2 separate regions of the Homo sapiens genome follow, and region 2 is linked to region 1. A link means that fine-mapping ties the variant in region 1 to the expression of a gene that starts in the linked region. Tissue or cell type: testis. Region 1 holds a variant in brackets; the other region holds the start of a gene. All regions are shown on one strand. Distances are between the middles of the regions.

Region 1 (5,399 bases):
TGCCCTTTACAGGGACATAGAGGGAGCTGGAGGAAATTATCCTTAGCAAACCAATGCAGGAACAAAAATCCAAATACCGCATGTTCTCAGTTCTAAGTGCTAGCTAAATGAAGAGAACACATAAACACATAGACGTTAAAAATACACGCTGTGGCCTTTTGGAGGGTGGAGGGTGGGAGGAGGGAGAGGATCAGGAAGAATAACTAATGGGTACTAGGCTTAAGATCTGGGTGATGAAGTAATCTATACAGCAAACCCCTATAACAAAAGTTTATCTTTGCAACAAACCTGTACTTGTACCCCTGAACTTAAAAGTTAAAAATAAAATAAAATAAAATGAATATATACAACAATAAAAAATAAATAAAAATAGATTTTATTTTTAAAACACTTTTACAGTTAGGGAAAAGTTGAAATGGTAGTATAAAAATGTCCTATATACTCTCTCACTCAGTTCCCCCTATTATTACTATCTTATATGACTATGGTGCATTTGTTATGATGAATGAACCAATATTGGTGCATTAGCATTAACTAAACTCTATAGTTCATGTCATTTTTATTGAAACATATCAAGGGTACAGACTATTGATGTTGACCTTGATTTGAAGTTGAATTTACCAAGTTTCTCCAACATAAAGTTACTCTCTCCTCTACCTTTTCATACTGTACTCTTTGGAAGAGAGCTACTGTCAAAGCCCATGCTTAAAGAGTGGAATATTTTCTTCCTCCTTATTCAGATAAGGATATCTACATAAGCTGTTTGGAATTCTTATGCATGGGATATTTGTCTCTTCTTCCTAATTTAGTTATATATTTAATAAGAAAAAAGGAATATAGAGATTATAATACAAATTTCAAAAGTACAATCAAAAAGTAGAATAATAAAACCAAAAGTTGGTTCTTTGAAAAAAGTCAATAAAATTGCAAAAATTTAGCTATACTGATCAAGAAAGTGGAACAAGACTTAATCACTAAACTCAGACATGAAAGTAACAATATTATGTCAAACCTTAAAAAAAAATTATAAGAAAAAACTATGAAAATTATACACTACAAATTAGATATCCATGAAGAAATTGACAAATTCCTAGAAACACAGATTACAAAACTGACTCAAGAAGAAATACAAAATCTGAATAGACATTTAACAAATAGAGATTGAATGTGTCATTTAAAAAAAACTTCAAGTAAGAAAATCTCACAACCAGATGGTTTCAACAGTGAATTCTATCAAATATTTAAAGAAAACTAATGCCAATCTTTTACAAACCCTTCTAGTAATCAGAAGGTGAAACACTTTCTAAATCATTCTATGAGATCAGCATTATGCTAGTACCGAAGATAGAGACTGACATCATAACAAATGAATACTATAGGCCAATATCCTTTATAACAATTGACACGAAAATTATTGGCAAATAGCAGCAAACAGAATTTAGCAGCATATTAAAAGGGCAATTCACTATGACCAAGTGGGATTTATTCTAGGAATGCAAGAGTTGTTTAACATTTAAAAAATACAAAAACACTAAGGGCAAGACACCAAAATAAAATAATAAAAACAACAACAAAAATATGTACATCTCAATTTATGGAGTAAGATTATTAGAAGAAAATTAAACCTCTTTTGTAATCGAAAGACTCAAAAACTAGAAATAGAGGAAATTTCCTCAACATAATACAGGGCACTTATTAAAAAAATAAACACTCTAGTCTACTCAATGATGAAAGCTTTCATCCTCAGAGCAGGAACAAGATGAGGATATCCACTTTAACCACTTCTATTCAACATTTACTTGATATTCAAGCCAGAACAATTAAAGAAAAATACAAATAAAAGATATACAATTAAAAGAAAGTAGTATAATTAACTCTATTCACTGTTGTATAATTATATAATATTCCAAAGAATGCACAAACATACATACACACAAAAACCTTAGAGTTAATACATTCAGCACATTTACAGT[G/A]TACAATGTAAATACACAAAATCAACAGTATTGCTATAGACTAGCAACAAATAACCTAAAAAAGAAACAAAAAATTTTCATTTACAATAACATCAGAATGCGTATATATAATTTAATGTTATTATACACGTCTTTCACCTTCTTCATTATATATATTATTAAGCTTTTACATATATGTGTGTGTATATATATATATATAAAATGAAGGAGAAAGATGTGTATGCTGACAACTAAAAACCACTGTTGAAATAAATTAAGAACCTACATAATGAAAAATATCTTGCATTTATTAATATAAATAATTAATATTAAGATGAAAATACTCCCCAAAGTGATCTACATATTCAGTGCAAACCCTGTCAAAATCCCAATGGTTTTTGTTTTCAGAAACGGTAAAGTCAATTCTACAATTCATATGAGATTGCAAGGTACCCTGAGTAGCCAAAATGATTTTGAAAAAGAACACATTTGGAGGATGAACACTTTTCAATTTCCAAACCTTCTACAAATCTCAAGTAATTCAAACAGTGGAACTGGCACAAGGATAGGCATATTTATCAGTGAAATATAATTGCGAGTCGAGAAATAAATGTATGCATCTGTGGTCAGTTGATTTGTAATAAGGGTGCCAAGACCATTCACTAGGAAAAGAACACATTAACACATGATGCTGAGACAACTGGATATCCACATTTTGTGTATTTATCTTGTATATTGTACCTGTGCTGACTATGTTAACTCGAAGATTGTGTGTATGTGTGTGTGTGTTTGTGTGTATTCATGGGAATGTTGTGTTTTTAAAATTATGAAAACTATGAATGGAGATAGTTCTGCTATTTCCTTTTTAATTGTATAGCTTTTACTTGTTTTTGGTTATCCAGTTGCATCAGCATCATTCGTTCATGTGTTCTTTTCCTATTGAATGGTCTTGTCATCCTCATTAAAAGTCAATTTATCAAAGATACATGAGTTTATAAATCTGTCAGTTGACAGACTGAAGTTTATGAATCCAGTTGAAACAACTGGATATGCAAAAGAATGAAATTGGATCCATACATTAAACCAAGTACAAAAATAAACTCAAAGTAGATAAAGACCTAAATGTGAGTTAAAACTAGAGAACTATTAAAATAAAACACAGGGATCCATTTCATGACCTTAGAATTGGCGATGTTTCTTTGAGTATAATGCCACAAGTAAAAGTAACTAAAGAAATAATAAATTGGACTTTATCAAAATTAACTTTCATGCATCAAAGAAAAATATCAAGCGAGTGGCATTAATGATTTTGAAAACATAATGTTGATTGCTGATAGCAGGTTGATTAAGAATGTATGTTGTTGAGAAACAGTGAAAAGTACACCTATGTCTAGTCACAAATAAGTTTCAAGTGCTATGATGTTTATTTTAAAATGTATAAACATTTCAAATTTTAAAACAAACATACTTTTAAAACAAATATTATAGCACTTGAAATTATTTATGATTAAATATAGGTGTATTATCAAACAACAGCAAAAGAAAAACAGACTTAGAGAAACTACTCCAAAATTTCTCAATAATGTTTTCTCCAGAAGAGAAAGATATTTGGTTGCAGATATTTGGAAATGCTCAAATATGCTTCTCATTGTTTTCCATAAAATAAATAACAATTTTAAAGGTAAATATAGTATAGTTTGTGGGTGTCTCTCATCTTATCTTTGCATTTTTCTGTATTTTAAATATCTCCAAATTAGATGGATATGTTAATGAGAAAAAAAGTCTATATTAAAAATAATTCTATTTTCACTACAAAAATATGTGAACATAAAAATTATAAGTATACTCATATACTATACCTTTTTCAAGTAAATATTTTCTTAATATTTTACCAATACTAATTAAAGGTGGGTATATTATATATAATTTATAAGTATTATAGACACCTCTAAGTTTGCTAAATGTAATTAGCACAATAATATATGAGCAATATTTCAAATAATTAATAAGTTCTACCTTTGTTTTTAGTTATCTAAAATTATATGTTTACCATGCTTGTGAAGTAGGATATTTCCCTGACCCCTTCTTGGGACTCACTACAGGGTTGCCTCATTTACTCAGCGTGACAGTGTAAACTCCTTGTGGGAGGGAGCATGTAAGCAAACAAGTGCAGGAACTGGAGTGAATGACCACTGGAACCTGCCAGCTGCTTCGGTGCCAGGGGGATCAAACCCCACTCACTCTTACCTGATGCCTTCCACCCCTTCCAGGAGGGACCACGCAGGTGAGTAGGTGTAGGAACCAGAGCGAGTGCTTTTCGGTGCTGGCAGGAACAAACTCAGTTTACTCAGCTTGCCATGCTCAAATCCCTTGTGGGAGGGAGCACAAGTAGGGGATCCCACTGGCCTGTTTTGGGTGCTGGCAGGAGCAAACTCCATGTAGGCCCTATGGTAGCATCCAGGTCAGGGTGCCTGTGATGCCCAATGCCCCAAAGGGTGCGTTACAGTGCTCTTTTAGCTCTGCCATCCACTGATGGCTTAAGTGTTAACAGCTCAGTGTGCCCTTTGCCTTTTTGTGTGATGCAGCTGCCCTCTGCCAATGAGGGCAAAGGACCAGAGTGACAGCCTTTTGTATCTGCATTTGTGACTCCTGAGCTCTTGTCTGGCATCCAGGAAAAATGAAGTCATATTAATAAGTTGAAGGATGGTAAATGTGGGGGATTTTATTGCTGCTGAAAGTGGTTCTCAGTGGGAAGGGAAGCTGAAAAGGGGATGAGGTGGGAAGGTATTCTTCCCCTGATGTCTGGTCATCTCCAGCTGGATTCTTCTCAGAAGTTATGCCATTAAGCTGTCCCTCTGAAATCAAGCTGTTTATCTCTGGCATCCAGCTGTAGTCCCATCTACTGGCTGAATCTGGGGTTTTTATAGGCACAGGATGTGGTGGGGTATGGTCATGGGTGGTTTAGAAAAAGGCAACATTTGAGTGAGAAGACAGGAATATAAGTTCTCAATTTGGGCAGTGGTTTTAGGCTCTTCAGCTTGAGGGTGGAGTTTCATTGGAGACCCACTCTTTTTTGCCTAGAAAAAAAATTTTCTTCCCCCTGTCCCTATCACAAGGAGAAATTGATGTTGTTTAGTGTTTTCTAGCTTGCTTACTGGTTAAATTTGCATGAGAATCTTGAAACTGGGTATTCCATGGATTTTCTTATTCAATATTTTTCTTTGTGAATAAACATGGCACAGTGGCTAGTATCTGTAAATCCTACACTTTGGGAAGCTGAGGCAAGCAGATCACTTTAGCCCAGGAGTTCAGATTACCTGGGCAACATAGGGAGACTTTATCTTAACAAAAGTACAAAAATTAGCCAGGCGTGGCGGTCCACACCTGTAGTCTTAACTACTCAGAAGGCTGAGGTGGGAGGATCACTCAAGCTCAGGAAGTGGAGGT
Region 2 (5,399 bases), 150 kb before region 1:
CCATGTGTCTGTTCTTTCACCGTTATCACACTGTGTTAATGACTGCAGCTTATAGTCTTCAAGTTGGATAGTGTAAGTCCTCCAACTTTGTGTTTTTACTTCAACACTGTGTTGGCTGTTCTAGGTCTTTTGCCTTTTAATACACACTTTAGAATTCATTTGTCAATAGCTAGAAACTAGCTTCCTGGATTTATAGGTTGAGTTATGCACAATTTATACCATAATATCAAGTCTGATAATCCATGAAAACAAAATATTTCATTTAATTAGATCTTCTCTTTTATTCATCAAAGTTTTGTAGTTTTTTGCATATAAACACCTTCCATTTCTGTTAGATTCATACCTAAGTGTTTCACCTTCTTTAATGCCATTGTAATTTTTTTGTTATCCTTCCTTACTATTTTCAGTCATTTTTTCCCTGGGGGACTTAAGTAGACAATCATGCTATCTATAAATAAAAAGAGCTGTATTTTTTTTTTGAAGTCTACGTACTTTTTTTTAGCTGAAATAAACACTTAAAATTGTAATTCTTATTTTTCATTGAATTAAAATATAGATTCTTGCTTTTGCCCAGATTTTTATTGAGATTTGTTGAGGGCAATAAAATATTCAATAATATGTATAATTAAAGCTTATACCAACATAACGGTTATAAATCCTACTGAAATTAATATTGATCTGTCTTTAACGTAAATTATCTTTAAGCAATTATTTATTTGGACTATGTCTTTAAAGTAATTTCTAATAAAAAAGAAATGTTATAAAGCATTGGTGATTTTTAAATTTTGATTTAGACAGAAAGAAAAATATATATTTTCTGCCAGATGACTTTTTTATTATTTTTTCTTGCACTTATATTACTACATCAATTATATTGCTGATTGCTATATTTTAATACTTTTTCACAATCATATTAAGTAGAATTACATAGACTAACCCGTGAGTCACACTCGCAGTGTTTACTTTTTGTCTTATACCACTAACAATGACTGACTAAATTTTGACTATATCTGGAGTTAGAAAAATAAACCTTTCTTCTGTTTTCATAAGTATCAGATTGCTAAGTTTTATTATTCAAGTTCTGTTCTCAAAAGCTGCTGTATGAGATATTGCATACCTGCCAGAATTTGAAGAGACAAAAATGTAAAGGAACAATGGCAAGATCAGAGAAGCTATTCTACAAACAGGAACTTTTAAATAGCAGCCTTTCTTGAATCTTATCTTTATGCTTTATGGCAATTTATAAAAGATGAAGGCTTATGAGAACTTATTTAATTTGCTTGTCCTATTCTTTGTCTAAAGAGTTCCTTGATAATTTGACACATCAGATGCAAATAAAGAGATAAAGAGATTGAAATAAGAATACAGGTGCCACACATTTTCCATTTAAGTCCAATGTCTGCTTTGCAAAATGTGACATGCTGTATTTTTATCCAGATAGATAATTGACATCTCTAGGAAGAAAGAAATACAAGAATTATGTTTCTTGGATGATTTTCTTCTAGTCCCTTAATCCTGATAAGAAAAAAAAAATCATGACTATGTTATAATGTAATATATAGTATCAATAACTAAAAACCATTATACAAATATAATATTAATATAAAACTGTAACTTTATTATACGGTATATTATTACTAATAGTATTCATGATAAAATTAGGCCGGGCGTGGTGGCTCATGCCTGTAATCCCAGCACATTGGGAGGCCGAGGAGGGTGGATCACCTGAGGTCAGGAGTTCAAGACCAGCCTGATCAACATGGAGAAACCCTGTCTCTACTCAAAATACAAAATTAGCCAGGTGTGGTTGCACAAGCCTGTAATCCCAGCTACTGGGGAGGGTGAGGCAAGAGAATCACTTGAACCTGGGAGGTGGAGGTTGCAGTGAACCAAGATCATTCCATTGCACTCTAGCCTGGGAAACAAGAGCAAAACTATCTCAAAAACAAACAAACAAAAATTAATAGTAACTATTAACTACTAATACACCAAATACAGTATTTTATGAATAACTCGATGCTTTGTTGCATTCTTATACTCTAAACTAAGAAAATTGAAATAAGATATGAGAAGAGTGCTTTTATTTTCAACCTAACTCTTCTAAGCTGGTATACAAGAGGGGTGCACCCATTTCCCCACAATTCTTATGGACTCAACTTACGGTGTAACCAAAGAGGGTAGATTTTACACCACAGATCCTACTCCTCCACGCCTGGAGTTCTCATGGGAGCCTTCAGTGTCAGACTTTTGCCATTACTGTTCTCACTTTTCCTGCCTAGCAGTGTTCTAGAATCCTGTATGATTCTTATTCTCTTGGAGTTTTGGGACATCAGAAATTCATGATCCTTCTTTTAAGAGCTGCATGGATTTGGAGTCTTATCCTCACTAGAAGAGAGGAATGCACCCAATGGAAAAGAGGAGAGCAACCAAAGTCTAAGCTAAGAGCATAGTTTCATGTGAGTGGGTGTGGTGTATGTGTGTGTATGGGTATGGTGTGTATGGGCCCTACAATTCTAGCATTATACACTAAATAGTCATTTGTGTGTATCACAGGCAATCAAATTATGGTTCATTAAAAAAATCTCCTCTGTGAAACCTAATTTGAAATTAGCAACTGCTAGGTTATAAAAGTAATTGTTCAAATTCTTTTGTGGTGCAGGTGGTGGGGTTGATCACTTTGAATACCCATGGCAGTTCATTTTCTGAGAATATAGACATAATCTTTCCCTCTAGTTCAGGAAGGGGGAAGAGCTTTGGCTGTGTTTGACAAGTTATAAACATGTTATCATATTTCATAACATGGAAGTAATAAAGAGTTATATAATTACATAAGCAGGATGCCAAATATTGAATTTTTGAAAATAGGGCAAATGCGACATGAAACATAAAATCATAAATTTGTAAACATGCAATTCACACAAAATTTTAAAATAAAATATAGAAAAATCCCTGCTCACAATGATACATTTTCTTACACATTTATTTTCCTTTTTTGTAATCACTAACAGCTGAACCTTGTTCATATGCTTCTGCATCTTTTATTTACACATAACTAAAAAAAGTGCTATCATTTAATCTCAGAATTTTTATGTTACAATGACCTAAAACCATCCCATGAATTCTATAAACTCTTTAACACTTTCTCTCTTCCATGACTCTCTTTCAGAAAGTATTTCCTCTGGCATTCATAGTTTTTGTGGACACACCTGATACCTGAAAAAAACAATCTGAGTGAGTTTAACTCATTAATTACTCAGAGTCCTCTCTATTCCCAAAGTATTCCGTCTCCCAAGCAAGACCTTATGTAGCTGTACTGTTTCTCTCCTTCCTCTCAATACCTACTCTTTTGCCTCTTCCAATATGCAATCTGTTCAACATGTTTGATATATGTCCTTGTGTGTCTATATGTGAAAATGCACGTGTTCAAGTTTTTTTTTTTTGGATTTTATAAACTGAATCAATGTTTTCTGTCTTGTTTAATGCTGTTTTTAAAAACGTATCTCTTTACAAAAAATGTTTACTACATTTATCAATGTTACTCTATTACCTTAAAATTTATTTTTTTCTAACTGCATCACGCATTTCACAGTATGCATTAACTATAATTCTTTTACATATCCTCTTAGGAAAATCTAGGCTGTAACCAGCTCCCCGTTACCCTCAATGATATCATGGTGAATATCTTAGTGCATGATGCTTCATGAATTTATGTGAAAGCTTCTCTGGGTTTACTCAGGTAGGCTAGGAAATTAGACAAAAACATACTTAATTTTTGTCAGAAAGTCTAGATTGTTTTTGTTCTAAAGAGCCCCTTTTCCTATTACAATGTTCTTTTTTTAAGCAATCTTTGGAACTTTGAAAAATTGTTTTAAAGCTTTTTGCATGTGTGTTTCTCAAATTATGTTTATGCTTAAATATGGAAGACATTGATTAAATAGTGGGTATATAATGTGGAGAAATTAAATTTTGGAGAAAGATCACAGTTTAAAACAGGTCTATGTTTTACAGAAGTGCAATTGCAGCTTGGAGTGAGTATTACCAGCTCCCCTGAGCATGCATAAGCCATGGGCATGCATAAGCCACCTTTCAAAGAGGTTGCAAGTGCAGAAGATTCCATTGAAGTCTGGATGTTTCATAATACACAAATAACTATTTTATCCAAACTTTTTCATGTGCTGGTCTTATATTAACTCCTGCCCCAGATGTGGCATTTTTTATTTCTCAGCTTGGTAATTCTCTTCTTTATTATTTAAGACATAGCATTTTATACTTTTAAAAATGAGAAGGCATCTAGCTTTAAGTGCAACACTTATTTACAATCGGAATACGCACCATGAATCATTTATGCATTTTCTTACTGCTGTACCTCTTCCTGTTCCAAAACTGCTTTGACAAAATTATGAGGTATGTTAGATGGCTTCAGTCATCTTTAATTCTACTATTCTGACTACTTCTCTATTATTCTTGTTATCACTTTTACTTCCTGTCTTTATCCCTAAGAGTGGCTGCTTCCTGATAACTTGTTGCCCATGCTGAGTATCTCCAGTGCTGAACACCAGTTTTGCCAGCAACCTCGTATCTCCTGAAGGGTCTCTTTCAGAGACTATGTCCTTGACTACAAAATCGCTTTCACTTCAATACTGTCTTTATTCCTCCCACTAAGAAAATAAGATACAGATAGCAACATATTTGGGGTTCAACTTGTGACTGAGCCAAACTTATACATTTTGAAATTGGTTTAAAAAGAAAGTTCAGAAAGTAAATATGTTTCATGTGATAAGAAATAATTGCCATAAAATATTTCAAATAAAATGATATGTAAATGGGATCAACTGCAGTTTTCTTCACAATGTCAGAATAGTAAGACACTTGTGTATATTAATTTTTGAGTGTCTAATGTGAGTGGGGTTGAGAATTGTGACAAAGATTTTGCAGTCTTGGTGAGGTCCCAAAGGCAGCAAAATATAGAGTCATATGTTGTGTTTGAAATAGAATTCTTGTAGTGGGAGCCTGATCTCGTATAGAATGGTCCCCCATTGAGCTGCAGGTGGGCCACCATCACTGCAGTTGGCCAAAGGATGACAAGCAGAGCTCTAAGATTATCTGCTTCAAGTTCTTCTTACACATACTCATGTTAAAACTCACTTACATGTCTTTTCTACTATGACTTGGAAAGCAAAATATATGTTCTGTCTTACCTTGAATTGATCTGTATATTGTACATTGATTACATAAGAGCAGCAACCATTCTTCGATTGTCCAAATTATTCAATTTAAAGTGATTGGTAGGTAGTCAGTGAGTGTTGACATATAGCGATTAGATATATAGATTAATTACATCAGATCCATTTGCATCGTCAGAGGGGTGATCTGTTTTTATTTTTAGTAACATGCTTTTG

Direction of the effects. Alleles are on the strand shown, and positions count from the first base shown. SD is a standard deviation of normalised expression in the study named.
With allele G in place of A in region 1, the expression in testis of the gene that starts at base 2,356 in region 2 is higher (small effect, 0.32 SD a copy in GTEx).

Evidence for each region. PIP is the estimated chance that this variant, and not a neighbour inherited with it, causes the effect. A credible set is the group of variants that fine-mapping cannot tell apart.
Region 2: LINC02220 starts here. The variant in region 1 is the best candidate, but not a certain one, in a credible set for the expression of LINC02220 in testis (GTEx, PIP 0.57).

The regions. Positions count from the first base shown.
Region 1 is chr5:12,876,231-12,881,629 of GRCh38, reverse strand. LINC02220 (long intergenic non-protein coding RNA 2220) reads left to right here. Exons shown (of 5, transcript NR_147005.1): 5 at 4,055-4,158. Among named protein-coding and RNA genes, the nearest start is that of LINC02220, 150 kb to the left of the region's middle. The variant G/A (reference allele first, on the strand shown) is at 1,974.
Region 2 is chr5:13,029,843-13,035,241 of GRCh38, reverse strand. It overlaps LINC02220 (long intergenic non-protein coding RNA 2220), which reads left to right and starts at 2,356. Exons shown (of 5, transcript NR_147005.1): 1 at 2,356-2,456; 2 at 3,167-3,231.